Linked DNA regions of Homo sapiens. The protein of the gene in region 4 purifies or fractionates together with the protein of the main gene of each other region. This does not show direct contact. Each region holds a gene or a part of one and is shown on either strand. Other genes may lie near its edges.

Evidence for each region.
Region 1: the proteins of ATP13A1 (region 4) and HAVCR2 purify together in Homo sapiens (co-immunoprecipitation; one large-scale study listed by IntAct). This does not show direct contact.
Region 2: the proteins of ATP13A1 (region 4) and RIC3 purify together in Homo sapiens (co-immunoprecipitation; one large-scale study listed by IntAct). This does not show direct contact.
Region 3: the proteins of ATP13A1 (region 4) and TMEM169 purify together in Homo sapiens (co-immunoprecipitation; one large-scale study listed by IntAct). This does not show direct contact.
Region 5: the proteins of ATP13A1 (region 4) and CD33 purify together in Homo sapiens (co-immunoprecipitation; one large-scale study listed by IntAct). This does not show direct contact.
Region 6: the proteins of ATP13A1 (region 4) and SPANXN3 purify together in Homo sapiens (co-immunoprecipitation; one large-scale study listed by IntAct). This does not show direct contact.
Region 7: the proteins of ATP13A1 (region 4) and ZYG11B purify together in Homo sapiens (affinity purification with mass spectrometry; 2 studies listed by BioGRID and IntAct, with this or other methods). This does not show direct contact.

The regions. Positions count from the first base shown.
Region 1 is NC_000005.10:157,095,545-157,099,044, forward strand, and holds part of HAVCR2 (hepatitis A virus cellular receptor 2 precursor), read right to left. Parts: intron 3,358-3,500; coding exon 3,314-3,357; intron 1-3,313. UniProt on the Homo sapiens protein: Cell surface receptor implicated in modulating innate and adaptive immune responses. Generally accepted to have an inhibiting function.
Region 2 is NC_000011.10:8,138,026-8,141,525, reverse strand, and holds part of RIC3 (protein RIC-3 isoform a precursor), read left to right. Parts: intron 1-1,332; coding exon 1,333-1,559; intron 1,560-3,178; coding exon 3,179-3,254; intron 3,255-3,500. UniProt on the Homo sapiens protein: Molecular chaperone which facilitates proper subunit assembly and surface trafficking of alpha-7 (CHRNA7) and alpha-8 (CHRNA8) nicotinic acetylcholine receptors.
Region 3 is NC_000002.12:216,088,419-216,091,918, reverse strand, and holds part of TMEM169 (transmembrane protein 169), read right to left. Parts: intron 1-3,500.
Region 4 is NC_000019.10:19,646,677-19,650,176, forward strand, and holds part of ATP13A1 (endoplasmic reticulum transmembrane helix translocase), read right to left. Parts: intron 3,265-3,500; coding exon 3,065-3,264; intron 2,988-3,064; coding exon 2,891-2,987; intron 1,084-2,890; coding exon 923-1,083; intron 853-922; coding exon 738-852; intron 650-737; coding exon 453-649; intron 1-452. UniProt on the Homo sapiens protein: Endoplasmic reticulum translocase required to remove mitochondrial transmembrane proteins mistargeted to the endoplasmic reticulum.
Region 5 is NC_000019.10:51,237,798-51,240,516, forward strand, and holds the end of CD33 (myeloid cell surface antigen CD33 isoform 1 precursor), read left to right. Parts: intron 1-1,720; coding exon 1,721-1,891; 3' UTR 1,892-2,219; downstream 2,220-2,719. UniProt on the Homo sapiens protein: Sialic-acid-binding immunoglobulin-like lectin (Siglec) that plays a role in mediating cell-cell interactions and in maintaining immune cells in a resting state.
Region 6 is NC_000023.11:143,511,356-143,514,475, reverse strand, and holds part of SPANXN3 (sperm protein associated with the nucleus on the X chromosome N3), read left to right. Parts: intron 1-3,120.
Region 7 is NC_000001.11:52,764,453-52,767,952, reverse strand, and holds part of ZYG11B (protein zyg-11 homolog B), read right to left. Parts: intron 1-3,500. UniProt on the Homo sapiens protein: Serves as substrate adapter subunit in the E3 ubiquitin ligase complex ZYG11B-CUL2-Elongin BC. Acts to target substrates bearing N-terminal degrons for proteasomal degradation with the first four residues of substrates being the key recognition elements.

The DNA.
Region 1 (3,500 bases), on a different chromosome or scaffold from region 4:
CCTTTTACAACATCACAGGATGGCTGAGTCCTTCAAATCACCTTTGATCTGTCACCTTGTAGCCAACACTCAAGCCAACCCAAGAAAGGGTCTCCCTTAACCTTTGGAGTTAGCAAGGAAACAAAATGTGCCCTTCTGTGTTGTGGGTAGAGAAGGAGCTCTTAAAAAAAAAAAAAAAAAAAGAGAGAAGGAGCTCTTAAGACCCTTTCCCTGCCCCTGCAAAAATTGGCTTTAGAGTGGAGTCTTGTTGGTTCAAGATCCCCTAAGATTCCCCAGAGAGTTTTAGAGTAGTTTACATTTAGTGTCTTGCTATGAAACGTCTATTTTTCACAAAAAGACAGTGATTCAATAGCCAAGACTTTACAGCCAGACGGTCGTGGATTCAAATCCCAGCTCTGAGGCCGGGCGCGGTGGCTAATGCCTGTAATCCCAGCACTTTGGGAGGCCTAGGCAGGCGGATCACCTGACATCAGGAGTTTGAGACCAGCCTGGACAACATGGTGAAACCCCGTCTCTACTAAAAATACAAAACTTAGCCAGGCGTGGTAACACATGCCTGTAATCCTAGCTAGTGGGGAGGCTGAGGCAGGAGAATCACTTAAACCCAGGAGGCAAAGACTGGAGTACTCGAGTTGAGATCATGCCACTGCACGCCAACCTGGGCAACAGAGCGAGACTCCATCTCAAAAAAAAAAAAAAAAAAAAAATTCCCAGCTCTGCCACTAAGGGCTGAGTAATCCTGTAGAGTTATCAGGAAAACTAAGTGAGAGAAAATATAAAATGCTTAGTACAGGGCCTGGTACATAATAAATGTTCAATCAATCGTAGCTATTATTGCTATTGCTCTAGTTAACTTGATTTTCTGATAACTGAGAGCCACACAAAATAAATCCTGTTTCTAAAATTTCAGTCTATGGGTTCTCTCTTTTTCTCTCTTTAAAAACAATGATTAGGCCAGGTGCGGTGGCTCACGCCTGTAGTCCCAGCACTTTGGGAGGCCAAGGCAGGCAGATCACGAGGTCAGGAGTTCAAGACCAGCCTGGCCAACATGGTGAAACCCCATCTCTACTAAAAATACAAAAATTAGCCAGGTGTGGTGGCGGGCACCTATAGTCCCAGCTATTTGGGAGGCTGAGGCAGGACAATCGCTTGAACCCAGGAGGCAGAGGTTGCAGTGAGCCAAGGTTGTGCCATTGTACTCCAGCCTGGGCGACAAGAGCAAAACTCCATCTCAAAAATAAATAATAAATTAATAAATAAATAATAATTATAGGCCAGGCTCACACCTATAATCCCAGCACTTTGGGAAGCTGAGATGGGAGGATCACTTGAGACCAGGAGTTAGGGACCAGCCTAATAATATTGAGACCCCATTTATACAAAACACACACACACACACACACACACACACACACACACATATAATTATAAGCATTTTTAAAACAATGAATTTAAGGAAGTTAAATCTTCCATTTATTCAATATACATTTACAAATTGATTCAATACACATTACTCCTGCAATAACAGGAGTCCTATATGCAAGATATTGTGCATTAAGCATTGTGGGCACATACAGGTCCTTAAAAAGCACTGTTTGATTGCAAAGAGAGAAGGAGCAAATACAAGATGCTGAGCATCAGTTGTGAATACACAAGCAAGAAACTGAGTCAAATAAATGTGGGCTCCTGGATATGCCCTCAAGTAATTTTTTTTTTTTTTTTTTTTTTGAGACAAGGCCTTGCCCTGTCACCTAGGATGGAGTGCAGGGGCATGATCACAGCTCAATGCAGCCTCAACCTACTGGGCTCAAGTGATCCTCCTGCCTCAGCCTCCCAAGTAGCTGGAACTACAGGTTTGCAGCACCATGCCTGGCCAAATTTTAAAAAATATTTTTTGTAGAGACAGGGTGTCACTATGTGGCCCAGGCTAGTCTCAAACTCCTGGTCTCAAGCATTCCTTCCACCTTGGCCTCCTAAAGTGCTGGGATTACAGGCATGAGACACTGTGCCCGGCCTCCTCAAAGAATTTTTAAGTCATTGCTGCAAGCTTGCCTTCTAGTGGTTTTTCTTTTATGAGGGAATTTCGCTCTTGTTGCCCAGGCTGGTGTGCAGTGGCGCGACCTCAGCTCACTGCAACCTCCACCTCCTGGATTCAAGCGATTCTCCTGTCTCAGCCTCCTGAGTAGCTGAGACTACACAGGCACACACCACCATACCTGGCTAATTTTTTGTATTTTTAGTAGAGATGGGGTTTCACCATGTTGACCAGGCTGGTCTCAAACCCCTGACAGGTGATCCACCCTACTTAGCCTCCCAAAGTGCTGGGATTACAGACGTGAGTCACTGCGCCCAGCCAGTTTTTCTTTTATTCTGAGAAGGTAGCAGGGACAGTAAAATTGAGGTTTATTAAGGTATGGCTTTATTTATAGTTAAATACATAAAACTGGCTGGGCACCATGGCTCATGCCTGTAATCCCAGCACTTTGGGAGGCCAAGTTGGGCGGATCACCTGAGGTCAGGAGTTCAAGACCAGCCTGACCAACATGGAGAAACCCTGTCTCTACTAAAAATACAAAATTAGGCCAGGTGCCATGGCTCACGCCTGCAATCTCAGCACTTTGGGAGGCCGAGGCAGGTGGATCACCTGAGGTCAGGAGTTCAAGATCAGCCTGGCCAATGTGGTGAAACTCCGTCTCTACTAAAAATAAAAAAATTAGCCGGGTGTGGTGGCTCATGCCTGTAATCCCAGCTACTCGGAAGGCTGAGGCAGGAGAATCGCTTGAACCCGGGAGGCGGAGGTTGAGGTGAGCCAGGATCACACCCTTGCACTCCAGCCTGGGCAACAAGAGCGAAATTCTGTCTAAAAAAAAAAAAAAAAAACCTCTTCACTTTGAATATTCCTGACTGGTGTCTTGCCATATTTAAAGAGATAAATTTAAATACTCTTTCCCATTAGGATTGCAATGGAAGCAAGAAGAATGGTATTCTAGGGAGATGAAGAATCTTTGAACCTTCCACAGGGTAGACAGTTGTGAAATTGAAGAATAAGAGGGACAAAATGCTAATGTTTCTTCTTTGTGGTTTTCAAGCTCTTACTATATGCCAGGCACTTTACACACATCATGTCAGTCCTTCATTACAGCAGGCCTATGAGGTTAGAACTGTCATCATCAACATGTTACAGCCCAGGAATCTGAAGCTAAGGGAACTTAAGGCTTTTTACCCCAAGGACAAGGTGGGCATGAAGGAAGTCTAAAGCCATGATTTCCCCTCCAAGTTGAGTACAACATAGCTCACAAAAAAAGTTACTTACTGTTAGATTTATATCAGGGAGGCTCCCCAGTGTCTGTGTCTCTGCTATAAAAAGAGAGAGAGAGAGAGAGAGAGGAAAAATAGCCAATAGTATAGTTAAGAACGTTTTCTTTTATCTAAGTTTTTAAAAAATCTTAATGATGCCTATAATCCTATTTGAAATGAATTCTACTCCGTACTTGTCACAA
Region 2 (3,500 bases), on a different chromosome or scaffold from region 4:
TTATGAATCTGGGTGCTCCTGTATTGGGTGCATATATATTTAGGATAGTTAGCTCCTCTTGTTGAATTGATCCTTTACCATTATGTAATGGCCTTCTTTGTCTCTTTTGATCTTGTTGGTTTAAAGTCTGTTTTATCAGAAACTAGGACTGCAACCCCTGCCTTTTTTTATTTTCCATTTGCTTGGTAGATCTTCCTCCATCCTTTTATTTTGAGCCTATGTGTGTCTCTGCACGTGAGATGGGTTTCCTGAATACAGCACACTGTTGGGTCTTGACTTTATCCAATTTGCCAGTCTGTGTATTTTAATTGGAGCATTTAGTCCATTTACATTTAAAGTTAGTATTGTTATGTGTGAATTTGATCCTGTCATTATGATGTTAGCTGGTGATTTTGCTCGTTAGTTGATGCAGTTTCTTCCTAGTCTCGATGGTCTTTACATTTTGGCATGATTTTGCAGCGGCTGGTACCGGTTGTTCCTTTCCATGTTTAGCGCTTCCTTCAGGAGCTCTTTTAGGGCAGGCCTGGTGGTGACAAAATCTCTCAGCATTTGCTTGTCTGTAAAGTATTTTATTTCTCCTTCACTTATGAAGCTTAGTTTGGCTGGATATGAAATTCTGGGTTGAAAATTCTTTTCTTTAAGAATGTTGAATATTGGCCCCCACTCTCTTCTGGCTTGTAGGGTTTCTGCCGAGAGATCCGCTGTTAGTCTGTATTTTCTTATCTGTATTAGTTAGGGGTGGCTAACTGCTGTAACAAATAGATTCCACAGTGTATAATGACCCTAACACAATAGAAGTTGATTTCTCACTCTTACAGACAGGTCCAGATGACTCTAAGTTAGTGAGGTGGCAGCAGTGGAGGGCTCTGCACTACATAATTATTTAGGAATCAGGTTGATGGAGGCTTTGCTGTTTCTACCCGTGGCTTCCAAGGTCCCCGTGGGTGTTAGCATCCATGCTGCAGAAAAGAAATGATCACGGAGTTGAATAACAAGGGAGATTTTATAGACCAGGCCTTGAGCTAGCACAGTCCTAGTCACATTCCTTGGTTGGAACTCAGTTTATATGGCCACATTTAACTGTATGGGAGTCTGAAAAATGTGGTCCAGCTAAGGACCCAGAGGGAAGAGAAAATGGGTTTGGTGAACAGCTAGAGATGATCACATCATATTTAGGATATGTGTGATACCTCTGTATCCTTTTAATTAAGTTGCCATTTTTTTCTTCTACTTGTTTGTGTTGGCCTCTTTTATACCTTAATGATTTGGTGTTTTCATGATAGCCATCTTTAAAATAGTAGAAGAGATAAAAAGTGATTATTATTTTCTCAGGAAAATTGGGCCGATTTCCACCTATGATGCATCATCACCAGGCACCCTCAGATGGCCAGACTCCTGGGGCTCGTTTCCAGAGGTCTCACCTTGCCGAGGCATTTGCAAAGGCCAAAGGATCAGGTGGAGGTGCTGGAGGAGGAGGTAGTGGAAGAGGTCTGATGGGGCAGATTATTCCAATCTACGGTTTTGGGATTTTTTTATATATACTGTACATTCTATTTAAGGTAAGTAGAATCATCCTAATCATATTACATCAATGAAAATCTAATATGGCAATAAAAATCATTGTCTACATTAAAACTTCTTATAGTTCATAAAATTATTTCAAATCCATCATCTCTTTAAATCCTGCCTCCTCTTCATGAGGTACTTAGGATAGCCATTATTTCAGTTTCACATAAGAAATGTTTACTCAATGTTTAAGTGTTTTGCCCCAAAATTCACAACTAACAAGGCAGAACTAGGACTTGAACATGGATCTTTTGGTTCTTAATCCAGTGAGTGATACAATTCAATGCACTCCCCTGCCAAAAAAAAAAAAAAAAAAAAAAAAATTAACATCTTTACAGGCCGAAAAGGAATAAAGATTTTCTAAGAAGAGCTTTTATTATTGGGATTGGCACAGTGATTTCCAAATAGCCATTGTAAGGCCAAATAATGACACCACTTTATCCTGCTTGTTTCTCCACAGGAATTTGAGATGCTGTTTTTAATATTATCTCCAATAATTCTCCTGAGACAGAACTGTCCCTCCTGAAATTAAGCCTGATATTTCCTAGCTCTGGGGAGACATGGGTGTAGGTTCTTTAAAGCAGACCCCCAGTTGAGTTCCACCTCCAGGCAGGCCTTTGCAGGCCCCTGGCCCCTGTACTGTGAATTAGAGGCAGAAGACTCACTTTGCCCTCCTGTCTAGAGTAAGCTTAAATAAGATGAGTTCTTTCTCGCCCAGGAATTCTGCAGGCAGTCTGAGTTGAGTCTGTAAGAATGCCCATAGGGTGCCACACATCCCTTTTAGATGAGCATGAGCAAGGAAGATGACCTGTAGGGAGATTTTTTTTCCCTTGTGTTAGAAATGCTTGTTCTCTGGTGCCATAAAGAAGCAGCACTTGGACGTACATTTAATTTCCTCAGCAAGGCCATTTTTACTTTCTGCAGAAAGGGTACACTCACCAGCGGTTTTGCCGTGAGAGTACACCGAACAAAGGAGACAGGGTCATTTATAACCTGACGCATCCACCTTACTGCTGTGTCCGGTTTCCATTGGCTGGAACGGGACCTCACATTCTGTATTTGTGCTGATTGGCTAGCGACTTAGAACTTTTTAAAAGAGGCAAAGGCAGAGGAGAACAAAGGAAGGAGGAACTAACTTGTGGAATGCTGAGAAAGGTAAAAACACCTTCATATAAGGAAGAGGAACAGGCTATGACCTCATGCTTGCTTTGACAAGTATAAGCATGCCAGGGCAAATATTTAGGCTAAACTGTGGGAGCTAAGAACAGTTGATTTCTTTATTATGGCTAGCAGATATCTAAGCATGTTAGCACAGGTTCTTGAATAAATTTTGCTTCTAAGAGAAGTTACTATTCCTAATTATATGGGGAGTAAAGTCTCTTTGAAGAGGAATCTCTACTTTACTTTTTACACTTGTGCTTTGATAATTTTTTACTTGGAAACCTCATCTTTTGGCGTTTTTTTTTTTGAGCTATTTCTCTAGTGTTGCTATTTGATTTAATTTCTGACCTTCATTTTTGTTTCCCAACCTTTTTTTTTTGTTTGATATGAGGGGTTCCGTGACTGAGGTTCTGAGCTGCTGTTGATGTGCTATACCTCCTTCAATTCTCAGCTCTCAAAGGGGAAAACAACTGCAGAGGATGGGAAATGCTATACTGCCATGCCTGGAAACACCCACAGGAAAATTAGTAAGTGCCCCTTCTCAGTATATTCACAGGTATTATTGAGTCAAACAGTTTTATAGCCACAGGGACAGTCTGTGGGTATGTCTTAAAAGCATTTCTCAAAAGTTGCTCCAAATTAATCTGATGCCATTTTTGCCTTAGTTCTGGGAATTCTCAAAAGTTTTTATATTGATGTACTACAAAAAGTACAAAACCACCAGTTCACTTTTTAATATATTAGCAAATTAATATTTCACGTTTGGAATGACT
Region 3 (3,500 bases), on a different chromosome or scaffold from region 4:
AACACTATCCTTTGAGACTACAAAACATTCCCACAAACTTAGGAAAAGATGGGTTATTTTGTAGTCATGGTAAGTAGACAATAGAACCAGTTTTAAACCTGTTCAATTGATCAACAACAATCTCCCTCAGTGTCTTAGTGCATTTGGGCTGCCATAAGAAAATACCATAGACTAGGTAGCTTATAAACAACAAGAATTTATTTTGTACAGTTCTGGGAGCAAAAAATCCAAGATCAAGTTTAGGGGTTTGGTAGGACTCACTTTCTGGTTCATAGATGGTGCCTTCTCACTGTGTTTTCACGTGGCTGAAGGAGCTGACTAGCTCTCTGGGTCTCTCTCTTTTTTTTTTTTTTTTTTTTTTTGAGATGGAGTCTCACTCTGTCGCATAGGCTGGAGTGCAGTGGCGCAATCTTGGCTCACTGCAACCTCTGCCTCCCAAGTTCAAGCAATTCTCCTGCCTCAGCCTCCCAATTAGCTGGGACTACAGGCACACGCCACCATGCCCAGCTAATTTTTGTATTTTTAGTAGAGATGGGGTTTCGCCATATTGGCCAGGCTGCTCTCAAACTCATGATCCGCCCGCCTTGGCCTTCCAAAGTGCTGGGATTACAGGTGTGAGCCACTGAGCCTAGCCTCTGGGTCTCTTTTATGGGGGCACTAATCCCATTCCTGAGGACTCCACCGTCATGACATAAAGCCTCACCTAATGCCATCACTTTGGGGGCTGAAATTTCAACATATGGATTTGGGGGGAAAACAAACCATACCATAACACTCAGCAAACATGTTTTTGGAAATTAACCCATCCAGTCAGTCCTTTGTTTCTGAAAGTCAATCAGGTGAGTGGCTCTGTCCCTGTTTGGCTGACTTTCACACTAGTGTGAGTTGACTTTTGGCCAATCAGGGTCTGGCACTCTGATGATGGCTTTCAAAAATGTATTCACTTAGGCAGTTGTTGATTGAACATGTTTAAAACTAGTTCTGGTGGCTACTTGTTATCAAGGCTACTGTAAAAACAGTGTTTTCCTAAATTTGGGGATCCTTTTTACTGTTAGTTTCCTGCAAGTCTGGAATATATCAGATGTCACAGTACAAGAATATGAATTATCTGTTGTGATGTAACAAATTACCCAAGAAGTAAAGGTTTAAAACAATAAAAAAGTTATTATCTCACACAATTATGTGCGTCAATAAACTGGGAGTGCCTTAGCTGGGTGGTGAGTAGTCTTCTCTACCTGCTTCCTGCCTATAGAATTTGGAGGTCCAAAAGTGTTTTTTTGTTTTTATGGTTTCTGAACCTTTTAGTATTCTGTGAATAGAATTTTCTCAACATTTCTGTGGGATTCCTATAAATAGTTTCTCTGAGTCAGAAGTGTGAGAGTGGCTTAGCTGGTTTTGTTTCAAGATCTCTAAAGATGTCAGGGCTGCAGTCATCTGAAGGCTTGAATGAGGCTAGATCTGCTTCCAAGATGGTTCACTCATGTAATGCTGACTCAGTTTCTCTCCACATGGGCCTCTCCATGGGCCATCTGAGTGTCCTTACAACAGTGGCTGGCCTTCCCCAGCATGAGTGGTCTGAAAACAGGTATTTTCTTTGACCACCCCAACTTGACTCTTGATCCCCATCTCTTCCTCATCTTTGATTTCCTCCTTCTCCAATAGCTCCAACTTCCTTCTACTGGCTCTTTCCCCTTTGCCTTCAAACTCAGAGTTCCTTATCTAGAAAAAAATAACTTTACCTTGCCACTTTACTCTCTCTGATAATCTCATTTTTCTCCAACCAAGCTTTTCTATCAAATAGTTTATAGCCACTCATATCCAGTTCATCCTGCAATCTTCTGCCCTTTCTCCCCACTCCCAACCTCTGTACACACACAGACACACACACATGCACGCACGCACACGCGCAAGTCACTTGCAAAGATGAGAAATAGGCCAGGAAATTAGCATTTATTGAGCCTTATGTGTCAGGCTGTAAGGTAAACTCTTTATAGATGTTCTCTTACTTGCATCTCTCAACAAGCTTGACAGGTAGGTCTTATTTTCCACACTTGACCTATTAGGTTCAATGCGTTAAATATAGCAGTGAGAGAACTTGGGTTTAATTCTATACTTGCATAACTCTAAAGTCCAGGATTTCCCCACCAAGATTTAGAAGAAGTCAAGGCCAGGTGTGGTGGCTCATGCCCGTAATCCCAGCATTTTGGAAGGGCAAGATGGGCGGATCACTTGAGGTCAGGAATTCAAGACCAGCCTGGCCAACATGGTGAAACCCTGTCTCTACTAAAAATACAAGTAGCTTGGCGTGGTTGTGCACGCCTGTAATCCCAGCTACTCAGGAGGCTGAGGCAGGAGAATCGCTTGAACCTGGGAGGTGGAGGTTGCAGTGAGCTGAGATCGTGCCACTGCATCCAGTCTGGGCGAGAGAGTGAGACTCTGTCTCAAAAATAAAATCAGTAAAATAAAATAAAATGAAAATTAAAAATAGAAGTAGTCAAGTGGTAGTAGCTGCAGTGAACAGCTGATGGTTTTTGGTTTTTTGGTTCTGTTGTTTGCTGTCCAAAACCCTATTTCTCCTTCATTTGATGACAGATCCACTCATTTTGGTGAGAAACAGTCTTGAAAGTCCCTGATGTGATCACAGTGACCACTTCACCATTCTTATTCTCCTTGTCACACCAAAGCTGTTGATTCCACTAATTCCCAAATCTTTCTTGAACCTTCCCTCACCTCCTTTAACTTTCTACTCTCATTCTCTTTTACCTCTCAAACCTTCCTTCTGTTTCTTTTGCTCCCTTATCTGCTTTCTCCAACCCATAATTGCCAGTGTTTTCTAGGCCCGATTCTTAATTCATTGTCCTCTATTCTCAACAGCACACTCTGTTCCTCTTGTTAAAATATACAGCCTTCCTGCACACAGCTGTAGGACCACTTCTATGCCAAGAACGCCCAAATGTAGATCTCAAGATTGTATCTCCAATAGCCTGGCGAATATTTTCTAATTGAATTATTTAGCAAAGCATGTTCAAACCAAACTCATCTTTATTTACAGCAGAGAACCTCTCAGTGTTACCGAGAAAAAAGGAGAAGGGGGAAAGGAAAGGAGAAAGGGATAAAGAAGGAAACACCACAACATTTATGGAATTTACCGATTGTGTAATTTGGTAGGTTCTGTGTTGATTATACAGTACATGCATTATCTCACTGAATTACACATTCAAAAAATATTTACGTATTCATTTATTTTTAGAGATGGGGTCTTTCTATGTTGCCCAGGCTTGACTTGAACTCCTAGGCTCAAGCAATCCTCTCACCTCAGCCTCCTGAGTAGCTGGGACTACAGTCATGTGCAACTGTGCCCAGCTTCAGTAAATATTTATTAAGCAACACTATGTGCTATATATTGCATAGTTGTTCTAGGTACAACAATTTTTGTCTGTTTGTTTGTTTGTTTTGAGACGGAGTCTCGCTCTGTCGCCCAAGCTGGAGTGTAGTGGCGT
Region 4 (3,500 bases):
CACCGGGGACTCCCTGCGTCAGCCCATGCCTGTTTGGGGCCTTTGTGTCCAGTTCCTGGCCGCTGGCCCCCCTGGTTCTTTACGCCTTGGCCTGAGTGTCGGTGTCGCACAGGCCTCCCCAGCTGTCCACCAGCCTGTCCTGTGTAGCCTATGACCCACTTAGTTGTTTTTTTACCCTCTTGATGATTGTTCCTTGCTTGTGGGGCTCTGTGGGGCCCACCCCTGGGACCCCTACCTGTGGACAGGTGTGGACGCCAAGCTGTACCACCTGGAGGGGTCTGGGAGCCTCAGTCCACACCTGCCCTGCCAGCATTTCCTGAGCCATCCCAGCTACAGCCCCCATCTCTGGGGCCCTGGGTCCTGTAACTTGGGGATGACAATTCCCGTGCCTATATCAGCCTGGCCCTGGCAGGCCCATGCATCCCTGGCCTTCCAGCACCTCTGGGGCCCACCTTGGAACGGGAGATGAAGAGGAAGCAGCCGGCCAGCAGCAGCCCCTGTAGGGTGGCCTGGAAGTCACTGAACTTGACTCCCTCCAGGTAGAGGACGCTCTGGCTGTAGGCCAGGATGAGGGCATTGAGCGCCAGGATCTTGAACATCTGTAGCGTGGTCACCAGCGTGCAGCGGCCCTGCTTGATCACGTGGCAGACTGCAGGGTGGTGGGGAGGCAGGTGTGGGTGTGGGTAGGGGTGCCAAGGGGGGAATGAAGGGAGGGGGAGCGGGGGCAGGCAACTCACTGCACTGGATGGATGAGAGCTTGGAGGTGAAGGGTGCTGCGATGCTGGCATCCCCCAGTTTCACAATGGGCGTACTCTCGTCCTCGAGGTCTCGCAGCACCTGGCTCAGGCGGTCCTGCAGGGTAGACAGCAGGCTGTCAGCCCTGGCCAGGATGGGGTGCAGCACCTCCCCTCTTGGGACTCACCCTCTGGGAGGTTGGCTGCTCCTCGGAGGGAGGGAGCCCCGACCGCTGCTTGGCTGTCCTGGAGGTGGCTCTGATGCCACTGTTGCTCAGGGTTGGGCTGTCCCGGGGCCGCCGTCGCCGCTCGACAACCCGCTCAGGGGCATTGGCCAAGAGCGCCACACCTGGGGGGCAGGAGGGTGTCAGACCCGGAGGAGCAGGCTCCACGGAGGGGAAGATTGCTGGCTTCAGAGCCACTGGTCCTGAAGTCCCCCAGCTGGCTCCCGTGAGGACAGTTCCCAGACTTCCCCATTTCACCTGACACCCTAAGGAGACCTCAGAGAGTGCCCGTGTTGCTTTCTACAAACTACTTTAAGAAAACAAACCACCAACAATAAACCCCCACAACAAATGCAATGAAAAAACACACAACACGAGATAGGTCAAAACTAAACTGATTTTGGCCGAGCGCAGTGGCTCACACCTGTTATCTCAGCACTTTGGAAGGCTGAGGTGGGCGGATCACCTGAGGTCAGGAGTTTGAGACCAGCCTGGCTGATACGGCGAAACCCCGTCTCTACTAAAAATACAAAAATTAGCCAGGGGTGGTGGCATGTGCCTGTAATTCCAGCTACTCGGGAGGCTGAGGCAGGAGAATCGCTTGAACCCGGGAGGCGGAGGTTGCAGTGAGATGAGATCACACCACCGCACTCCAGCCTGGGCGACAGAGCGAGACAGTCTCAAAATAAAACAAAACAAAACAACCTAAACTGATTTCAAAAGAAATAGCCAAGGAGCATGATTCTAGGAGGCAAACAACACTCAATAAATGCTTTAGTAGATAAAAGCAGATAAATATTGGAAAAGCAAAAAAACCAACGTAAGATTGATCTTTAAAATTCAATTTAACACCTGAGTTCTTGCAAAAAAAAAAAAAGAAAAAAGAAAAAAAGGCCAGGTGAGGTGGCTCACACCTGTAATCCCAGCACTTTGGGAGGCCAACACAGGCGCATCATCTGAAGTCAGGAGTTGGAGACCAGCCTGGCCAACATGGTGAAACCCCATCTCTACTAAAAATACAAAAATTAGATGGGCATGGTGGCTGGCGCCTGTAATCCTAGCTACTTGGGAGGCTGAAGAAGGAGAATTGCTTGAACCCGGGAAGTAGAGGTTGCAGTGAGCTGAGACCGTGCTATTGCACTCCAGCCTGGGCAACAAGAGAGAAACTGTCTCAAAAAAAAAAAAAAAAAAAAAAGGCAGGGTTCGGTGGGATGCAGTGGTTCACACCTGTAATCCTAGCACTTTGGGAGGCCAAGGCGGGTGGATCACTTGAGGTCAGGAATTGGAGACCATCCTGGCCAACATGGTGAAACCCCATCTCTACTAAAAATACAAAAATTAGCCAGGCATGGTGGCACGTGCCTGTAATCCCAGCTATTTGGGAGGCTGAGGCAGGAGAATCGCTTGAACCCGGGAGATGGAGGTTGCAGTGAGCCCAGATCGTGCCATTGTACTCCAGCCTGGGTGACAGAGCAAGGCTCCGTCAAAAAAAAAAAAGACAGGGTCTTGCACTGTCACTTAGGTTAGAGTGGATCACACCACTGCCTTGAACTCCCAGACTCAAGTGATCCTCCCGCCTCAGCCTCCCAAAGCACTGGGATTCCAGGCAGGAGCCACAGTGCTCAGCCATCTGTGTGCTTTTGACAGAGATCTGGGGCTATGAACCATCTTCATGGCTTCAGCTCTGGGTTTTCTGAGTCACTCTCCCAACTTGTTGCCTCTCTCCTGGCCTCTGGCCTCCGCCCTGCTCTGTTCCTGGGATATTCGCATCCCTTCCTGCCCTCAAAGCCCCTGACCTTGCCACCCCCTCCCATCCTCACAGGAATTAGTGCCCCCGTGGCTGTCACCAAGGGCCAGGTCTGTCTTTCTAGCTCAGTGACATGTCCTCAACACCTCGTCCACAAACGAAATACCCTAGCCCACAGCACTCACCCACGTCAGCATGCTTCAGGGCGCCCACGTCGTTGGTGCCATCCCCACACATGAGGGTCACGTAGCCCAGCTCCTTCAGGCTGGTGATGACAAACTCCTGTATGGGCGGAGACAGGCTGAGCAGGGGCTGCGTGCCTACCGCTGTGCCCCTGACCCCTAGGGCTGTGCACATACCTTCTGCTTGGGAGCCACACGGGCGAACACCTGCACATGGGGGATGAGGCGGAGCAGCTGCTGGGGGTCGGTGGCCTGCAGGTGGGCCAAGCCGTCGCCTGTGAGGCACAGTGCGTACTCCAGGGCCAGTGCCTTTGGGGAGCCCCGGGCCAGGGGCAGCACGATGCTGCCGTCAATGGAGCGCCACTCGCACTGCCGGCCTGCGGGCAGCACCTAGGGTTAGGGCTGGGGGCTTGGCTGACCGGGCTCAGAAGCACCCTCCCTCCACTCGGACCCCAGCACCAGCCAGTCTCTCCTCTCTGGAGCCCGCACCTCCCTACCCACCCAGGTGACCCCCAGCCCTTCTCTGGGGACTCCACAAAGAATGTCCCTCAGGTGCACAGGGTGGAACCAAGAGCCTGGGGCCTGAGCTACTTGCCTGAGAGCCCGGGACACA
Region 5 (2,719 bases), about 32 Mb from region 4:
GTCACTCTGGCTGCTCTGTGAGAAACTCTAGTATGTAGTATAGAAGAGAAGATACCAGAATAGAAGATACACAGATAATCAAGCCAAGAGATGACTGACTCAGACTTAGTCCCAAGTAAGAATAATGAATCTGATGTGGAGAAATTGGGTTCCGGATACATCTTGAAGGTGGAGTCAACAGTATTTGCAAGTGGAGTGATGGAGTGCATGCAAGGCATGAGCAAAGATAGCTCACGGGCTCTGCTCGATAAGTGTCTCAGATGTCATAGGTGGGTCCACAGATATCATAGATGTCATGGATGTCCAAGAAGACCCCATAGATGTCATAGATGTCTATAGATGCCAATGATGATGTTCATGTGGTTAACTCAGAATTCAAACTTAAAAAATCAAATTGCCAATGATTAAAATTGCCATCCTTGAAGGAGAAGTCTATTTTCAAGTGTATATCAAACATTATTTTGGTTACCGTAAGTTTGAGGTGCCTCTGAGACATCCATGTGGAGATGACAAGTAGCAGGCAAGTGTCTGGAGCTCAGAAGAGGGCTCCACGTGGGAGACACAGAGGTTGGGAGCTTCCCTATCAACATCCAATAATCGATGAATCTACAAAGAAGAGAAGGGGTCCACAGACACAGCCCTGGAACCCTCCAGCATTTAATGTTAGGGAGATGAGGTGTAAATGGTGAGAAAGCTGAGAATGAATAGGAGCCAATGACCAGGAAATTGCAGGCTGTAGTGTTGGTGGCCAAGGGAAGATGGGGCTTCATGGAGGAGAGGTTGGTCATTTGTTTCAAATGCTGGTAAGTCTGGTAAGATGGAATCTGAGAAATGGCTATTTGAATGTAGCTAAGTGGTATGACAGCAAAGCAGATCTGATTTTTCTGCTGGAGGAAGATCTCTTGACTAGAGAGAGTTCAAGAGAGAATGGGAGGAGAAGAGGCAGAAACTGTGAGTTGAAGGACTCTTTTGAGAAACACTGCCCCAAATCTAGAACCAAGAAATGGGCCTGCACCAGCAAATGGTTGTACCCTGTAGACTTGCCATTTCTCCAGCATCTGCTCCTGTGTCTCTTATGATACCATGTTCCCTGTTTGTGTAGGGCTTTGCACCACTTGAACTAACTGCATTCCCATAGCTTCCCCTACCACACCATGAGCTCCACAAGGAAAAGCCTGGGTTTTATTAGACCTCCATCATTCTACTCTCTCCTGTTCATCTGCACACTGTCACAATTTGCAATTACCAGTCTGTTTCTGTCTTCATCCCCTGCAGTACTGGAAATCACAGGGCCCCTGCTCTGCTCTGCTCCCTCCTGAGGATCCAGTGCCCAGCACATAGGAGGTCCCAGAGACCTGGGACCGAGTTCAGGGTCAACAGATGTGTGACTTTGGAAATTACCTAAGCTCTCTGAGACCTAGTTTCCTGGTCTGTAAAATGGATTAAAATAATAGATGCCAAAGATGATGTCAGTGTAGCTGCCCAGAATTTTTCCACATTAGTCTCTGTGAGTATTCAAGAGAATTGCGAATCAATCAATACGTGCTACATGTGTTAGATAATGAATAAGTAGAGCCTTAATTAATTAACATTTGATGAAAGAATGAAAGAGTGAATAAATGTTCTGTCAGAGTCAAATTTACTTCATTGACCCTCTTTGCCTTCTCCTGGTCCCCCTCCTCACTGCCCTGCTCTAACCCCCTTCTTTCCTCTCCATAAGAAACACCAGAAGAAGTCCAAGTTACATGGCCCCACTGAAACCTCAAGCTGTTCAGGTGCCGCCCCTACTGTGGAGATGGATGAGGAGCTGCATTATGCTTCCCTCAACTTTCATGGGATGAATCCTTCCAAGGACACCTCCACCGAATACTCAGAGGTCAGGACCCAGTGAGGAACCCACAAGAGCATCAGGCTCAGCTAGAAGATCCACATCCTCTACAGGTCGGGGACCAAAGGCTGATTCTTGGAGATTTAACACCCCACAGGCAATGGGTTTATAGACATTATGTGAGTTTCCTGCTATATTAACATCATCTTAGACTTTGCAAGCAGAGAGTCGTGGAATCAAATCTGTGCTCTTTCATTTGCTAAGTGTATGATGTCACACAAGCTCCTTAACCTTCCATGTCTCCATTTTCTTCTCTGTGAAGTAGGTATAAGAAGTCCTATCTCATAGGGATGCTGTGAGCATTAAATAAAGGTACACATGGAAAACACCAGTCCTGGTGCAGTGAGAGTTCGGTGCATACTGGTTCCTTCCCCCTTGAACAGAAGTCATTAGTGATATTTGATCTCTGGAACTATATCAGCAACATGTCCATCTCACTTGCTGCTCAAAACCCCACCATATATGTCTTCCCTGACTTACCCTCCAACATCATCTCTCTCCACTCCTGAATCTTCTCTTTTCATCTCACCTGTCCCCTACTCGGATTTCTGCTTTCTTTATGTCCTGCTACAGGGAAAATCACATATTAGCATTTGGGGAATTTTCTAAAACTCAGAGCTGACCATAGTGAAAATAGTTCCCTAGATCCCCAACCCACAGGAATAATTTGAAGCTTCTCAATGTGACATTCTAAGTCAGAGATGGTCAACCAGTATTAGCAAAGGGCCAGATAGTAAACATGTTCAGTTTTGCAAGCAATGTGGTCTCTATTGCAACTATTTAATTCCGCCATTGTAGCAACAAAGCAGCCACAGACAATCTGAAAATGAA
Region 6 (3,120 bases), on a different chromosome or scaffold from region 4:
GAGGGGAAGTTTGAGTGCAAAGGGAACATGCCTTAGTAATATATTTCAGATTGGCAGCCATGGCAGAAGAATGTATATAATTTTCTAAAAGCTGGAGTAGGGGCAGTAAGCAGCATGGAAATGGTTGTGCACATATGAAAGTACAGAAGGTTTTTTAAACTTGGACAAGACACTTTATCACTGAGATCAAACAATTTTTTCCTGAATGGCACCAGCCCGGGCAAGTGGGGTTCATTCCTTCTGGGTATATACAGGAAAAAATGAGCAATAACGATGGGGTTTTAAGGGCTGCCTGCCAGGCTGCCAAATTTGTTGAAAGGTTTCTCTCGGTTATGGCATCTTTAGACTTTCGGCACCCCTTGCAATGGATAATGGTGGCCTTTGGTGGTAGTTTATCCACCCCCAGCAGCTTATGTATAAGTTTGCCATTTCTTATGGGAGTTCCTTTTGTAGTTAGGAAACCCTGTTCCTGCCAGATGAAGGCATGAGACTGTAGGACATGGTATGCATATTTGGAATGGGTGTAAATGTTGACCCTCTTTCCCTTTGCTAGGGTGAGGGCCCTGGTTAGGGCAACTAGCTTAGGCTGTTGAGAGGTAGCATGGGGTGGCAGAGCATTGGATTCTAGGAGTTTATTTTCAGCAATGATGGAATAGCCAGCTGCTGGACATGGCTCCCTAAAAGAGCTTCCATTAACTAACCGTGTATGTGTTCCCTGCAAAGGGGCATGTGAAATGTGTTGGAAGGAGGAGGAGAGGGAGTCTAAGAGGTCCAGACAGGAGTGAGAGAGCCTAGAATCGGAAGTGTTTACAGGGAGGAGGGTGGCTGGGTTGAGAGTTTTATATCTCTGGAAGGGGATTAGAGGGCTACCTAGGAATAAGGCATGTACCTGTTATAAGCAGGATGGTAGGAGGGATAGAAGGGATTGATGGTTTATGAGGTCCTGTAGGTAATGGGAAGATGCAATAGTAATGTGTTGGTAAAGAGGGAGTTTCCGTGCCTCTAAGGCCAGCGATGTGGCCACAGCCAAGATTTTTAGTCAGAGTGACCAGCCTTGGTCACACAAAACAACAGAGTCCAGTTGTTTTGAGAGAAGTGCAGTGGCTTGTGTGGCGTTGCCGTATGTTTGGCAGAGTAGTCCAAGGGCAAGGCCCTGGTCAGAATGTACATACAAAGTAACGGGCTTGGTGAGGTTGGGCAGTCCCTGTGCCAGGGCCATTAAAAGGGCATTTTTAAGTTTTTAAGTGGGAGTTGATGGGGCAAGCTGGGTTTAGGGGTTTTAGGATGGGCCCATGTGAGGCCCTGTTTAGTGGCTTGGCCAGCAAGTCAAAATTGGGAACTGACAGCCAGAAGTAACCCACAAGGCCCGAGAAGGAGAGAAGGTACTTTTTTGTGTGAGGAAAGGGCATGTCCCAAATTAGCTCCTTTCATTGGGTTGGGATGGCTCGAGAATTAGGGGTTAGGACAAACCCAAGGTAAGTAACTTTGGTTTGGGCTACCTGAAATATTGTGGGCTAGGCCCAAACTTTGGTTTGGGCTACCTGAGATTTCCTCTATTATGGAGGAAGTTTAAAACCTAAGTGGTGTGTTGGATGGACAGGTTAAGGAAGGGGCTACAGAGAAGGAGTTTGACATGTTGCAGGAGGGTGCTAGCAGCAAGGGAAAGTTCACCTAGGTCCTTGATGAGGGCAAGTCTGAATAGGTGGGGGCTATCCTGGAACCCCTGTAAGAGTACAGTCCACTCTAGTTGGGTGCACATGTGAGTATTAGGACTTGACCAAGTTAAAGCAAAAAGACTTCTGTAAGCCGGATTTAAGGGAATGGTGAAATAGGCATCTTTCAGTTCCAATACAGAGGAGTGTGTAGTAGATTTAGGAATATGGGAGAGTAGAGCATATTGGTTGAGGACCACTAGATGTATTGGTACCACTGCCTGGTCAACAACTTGGAGATCCTGGACAAAGGGGTAAGTCCCGTCTGTCTTTTGGAAAGCCAGAATAGGGGTGTTCTGGGGAGAGTTAACAGGCTTGAGAATATGAGCTTGTTAAAGTTTACAAATAATAGGTTTGAGGCCCCTAAGCACGGCTGGATTAAGGGGATATTGAGACTGAAAAAAGAAAATGGAGGAGTTTTGAAAGGTTATTTTAACTGGGATGTGATGTGTGGCTATTGTGGGTTTAGAAACATTCCAAGCTTTAGAATTAACAGAAGGTAACAGGGTGGATAATGAGGATGAGTAGGGGGAGAGGGAAGCGTTTGGGTGTCGGAGTAAAATAAAAGGGGTAGAATTGTAGGAGCCGCATTGCATGGAGGCCTGGAATTTACTTAATATGTCCCACCCCAAGATAGGGGTAGGGGACTGAGGGATAACCAGGAAACAGTGGGTGAAGGGGGCTGTTGAATAGGTTGCATAATAAAGGACGAGTCTGTGCCTAGAGGGGATTTTATTGATTCTCACAATAGAGATCGAAGAACAGAAAAAGGGTCTAGAATATTCTGGTAAAACCGAGTAACTAGTTGTCGTATTGAGTATCCAATAGGAAAGACATGGACTTACTAGAGACTGACAGAATTACCCTGGGTTCCGAGGTGGTGATGGCAGTAGGGGTGGTGGACTCTAGGCCCCACCTGTCTTCAGGTACAGGTGGTGAAGCTAGATGAAGAGTTTCACTGAGCACAGTCTGACTTCCAGTGTTGCTTGATATCACAGATGGGGCAAGGCTTCCAGAGTGTCACGGGATTAGGCCAGGCTTTTGCTCAGTGTCCCTGTTGGATGCACTTATAACAGGCTCCTGGAGTTGACTGTTGCCAAGTTGAGGAATTCTGTATGCCTTGGGAACCCTGTTGAGTGGCAGCTATCAGCATTTGATATTTAGCCTGGCCCTTTTTTAGGTTTGGGTTTTTTAGTTCTTCCTCTCTAATCTTATAGACCTTAAAGGCCACTTTGATTAAGTCTCTTTGGAGGTTTGAGGGCCATCCTCCACTTTTTAAAGTTTTTTTTCAAATGTCTGGGGCTGACTGGGAGATAAAGTGTAAATGGAGGTAGATTTTGCCCTTAATGGTATTAGGGCTTAAGGTGGCATATTTAGTTGTGACCTTTGAAAAGGCGGGAGAGGAAAA
Region 7 (3,500 bases), on a different chromosome or scaffold from region 4:
TATCCCCCACCACGATGTTAGTAGATACCTTCTGGGGAGCCTGAACTTCAACACTCATCAAGCAGCGATGAAGTTCTCTACCTGCTTCCCTGCTGGGGTGCTGTCATAGGAAGTCTAGTGGAAAGTCAGGACTTTCACAACTGCCCAACAGTAATGAGGCCACCTCCTCCCAACATGGTGTCAGTAGAAGCCAACTGGGAAGCAGAAATGACATACCCATACCCCTCTCATTTAGGGAAGTATCAATAGAATCCTAGTGGGGAGTCAGAATTCCAACCTCTGCATAGCCCTGCACCTTGGGTGTCAAGAGAAGCCAAGTGGGGAACCAGAAAGAACATTAACCCTAATCTGGCTGGGCATAGTGGCTCACACCTGTAATCCCAGCACTTTGGGAGGCCGAGGCGGATGGATCACAAGGTCAGGAGATCGAGACCATCTTGGCCAACATGGTGAAACCCCGTCTCTACTAAAACACAAAAAATTAGCCAGGCCTGATGGTGCCTGCCTGTAATCTCAGCTACTTGGGAGGCTGAAGCAGGGGAATCGCTTGATCCCAGGCGACGGAGGTTGCAGTGAGTTGAGATCGCACCATTGCACTCCGGCTTGGGCAACAAGAGCGAAACTCCACCTCAAATATAACATAACATAAAATAAAATAACAACATAACATAAAATAAAATAACAAAATAAAATAACATAAAATAACAACATAAAATAAAATAACAAAATAAAATAACATAAAATAACAAAATAAAATAAAATAACATAACGTAACAAAATAACATAACATAAAATAAAATAACAAAACAACATAAAATAACAAAATAAAATAAAATAACAACATAAAACATAACAAAATAATATAACATAAAATAACATAAAAAATAAAAATAACATAAAATAAAATAACATAAAATAAATAAAATAAAATAATTTTTTTTTTTTTGAGACGGAGTCTCGCTTTTCACCCAGGCTGGAGTGCAGTGGCGCGATCTGGGCTCACTGCAAGCTCTACCTCCCGGGTTCACACCATTCTCCCGCCTCAGCCTCTGGAGTAGCTGGGACTACAGGCACACGCTGCCATGCCCAGCTAATTTTTTGTATTTTTAGTAGAGACGGGGTTTCACCGTGTTAGCCAGGATGGTCTTGATCTCCTGACCTCGTGATCCGCCCGCCTCGGCCTCCCAAAGTGCTGGGATTACAGGCGTGAGCCACTGTGCCTGGCCTATAAAAATTTTTACAAAGAACATTAACCCCAATCTGGCAGTAACAAGGCAGTGCTCCTACCTTCCACTGCTGGAGTGACGTCAGTGACTCAAACTAAAACAGAAAAGTCTCATATCACCTAAAATGTCCTGGTTTCAATAAAAAATTACTCTGAATCATACTAAGAACCAGTAAGACTTCAAACTCAAAAAGAGATAATCAATATATGCCAACAGTAAGGTAACAGAAATGTTAAAATTATTTGACAACGATTTTAAAGGAGCCATAAAAAAATGCAATTAAATTTTCAAAAGTAAACAAATATGCTTGAAAAAAAATGAGTAACAGACCAGGCGCGGTGGCACTTTGGGAGGCCAAGGCAGGCAGATCATGAGGTCAGGAGTTCGCGACCAGCCTGACCAACATGACGAAACCCCATCTCTACTAAAAATACAAAAATTAGCTGGGCATGGTGGCACACGCCTGTAGTCCCAGCTACCCAGGAGGTTGAGACAGAAGAATCACTTGAACCTGGGAGACAGGGGTTGCAGTGAGCCAAGATCGCACCACTGCACTCCAGCCTGGGCGACACAGCAAGATTCTCCATCTCAAAAAAAAAAAAAAAATTTAAAAAAAATTTAATAAGGAAAAAAAGAAAAAAATGAAAACAGACTCAGCAAGGCAAGAGAAGATATAAAGAAGAATCAAATAAAAATTTTAGAAGTGAAAAATATAATAATGCTTGAGGTCAACAGTAAAATAGAGAACAGAGAAAAAAGACTGGTGAACTAGAAGATAAAACAACATAAATTACCTAATTTAAATAACAAGAACAGAATGGGAAAAAAACCAAAACCAAAAACCTAAAGCTATATTTGTGTCACTGGAATATCTCAAGGACAGGAGAAAGACAGTGTGGCTGAAAAAGTACTTAAAGAAATAATGAGCAGGCACAGTGGCTCATGCTTATAATCCCAGTACTTTGGGAGGATGAGACAAGAGGATTACCCGAGGCCAGGAGTTTGAGACCAGCCTGGGCAACATTGCAAGACTCCATCCCAACAACAAAAAATTTTAATTAGTCGGGCATGGTGGTACATACCTGTAGTCCTAGCTAGCTAGTCGGGAGGCTGAGGTCGAAGGGTCGCTTGAGCCCAGGAGTTTGAGATTATAGTAAGCTATGATTGCACTCTAGCTTGGGTGACAGAGTAAGACCCTGACTGGGAAAAAACAAAAAACAAAAAACAAAAAACTGAGTGTGGTGGCTCATTCCTGTAATTGGGAGGCTGAGGTGGGAGGACTGCTTTGAGCCCAGGGGTTCAAGACCAGCCTGCACAACATAGAAAGACATCATCTCCATTACAAATTTTTAAAAATTAGTCAGATGTTGGTGGCATGCACCTGTGATCTCAGCTACTTAGGAGGCTGAGGCAGGAGGACTGCTTGAGTCCAGGAGTTCAAGGCTGCAGTGAGCTATGATCATGCCACTACACTCCAGCCTGGGAAACAGAATCAGACCTTGTCTCAAAAAATAATTTTTTTTAATTAAAAAAAAAGATAGGCTGGATGTGGTGGCTCACGCCTATAATCCTAGCACTTTGGGAGGCCAAGGCAGGAGGACTCCTTGAGGCCAGGGGTTCAAGACCAACCTGGCCAACATAGTGCGACTCCATCTCTATTAAAAAAAAAAAAAAGATCACTCAGAAAAATTGGAAGCAGTGGTTTACATGGAGTTAAGGGAATTTTATCTGATGGCTTCAATTTTCTTCCTAAGATAAATGGTAGAAAGTCTGAGAAGAGCAAAGAACATCTGAAACTACTGTTAGGAACACTAGTTTACTGGGGAAATACTCCAGAACTCCTGGGCAGTGCCGAGGAGCCCGCCTTTATGTTACTGACTTCCCTCCTTGTCATTCAGGTCTCAGTCTAGTATCACCACTTTAGAAGCTTTCTCTGATCATCCAAGTTAAAACATCTCCCTTCCTTTATTATTCTTCTTAAGAGAACAGTGTTCTTTTTCCCTCAGAGAACCTGGCACAAGCTGTAATTCTATATGTTTACTTCCTAATTGTGTCTCCCACTGGACTATACGCTCCATGAAAGCAAGATTCATGTTGCATTCATTGTCTTATTTAAATATTCACAGTAATCCCTGTGAGGGAGTTATAATTATCAACACTTTACAGATGAGGAATCTTAGACTTGCAGAGTAACTTATCCAGGGTCAAAGAGCAAATTAATGTTGGAACCAGGACTCAGACCTAGGACCGATTTATAGAACTCATGCTCTTTTC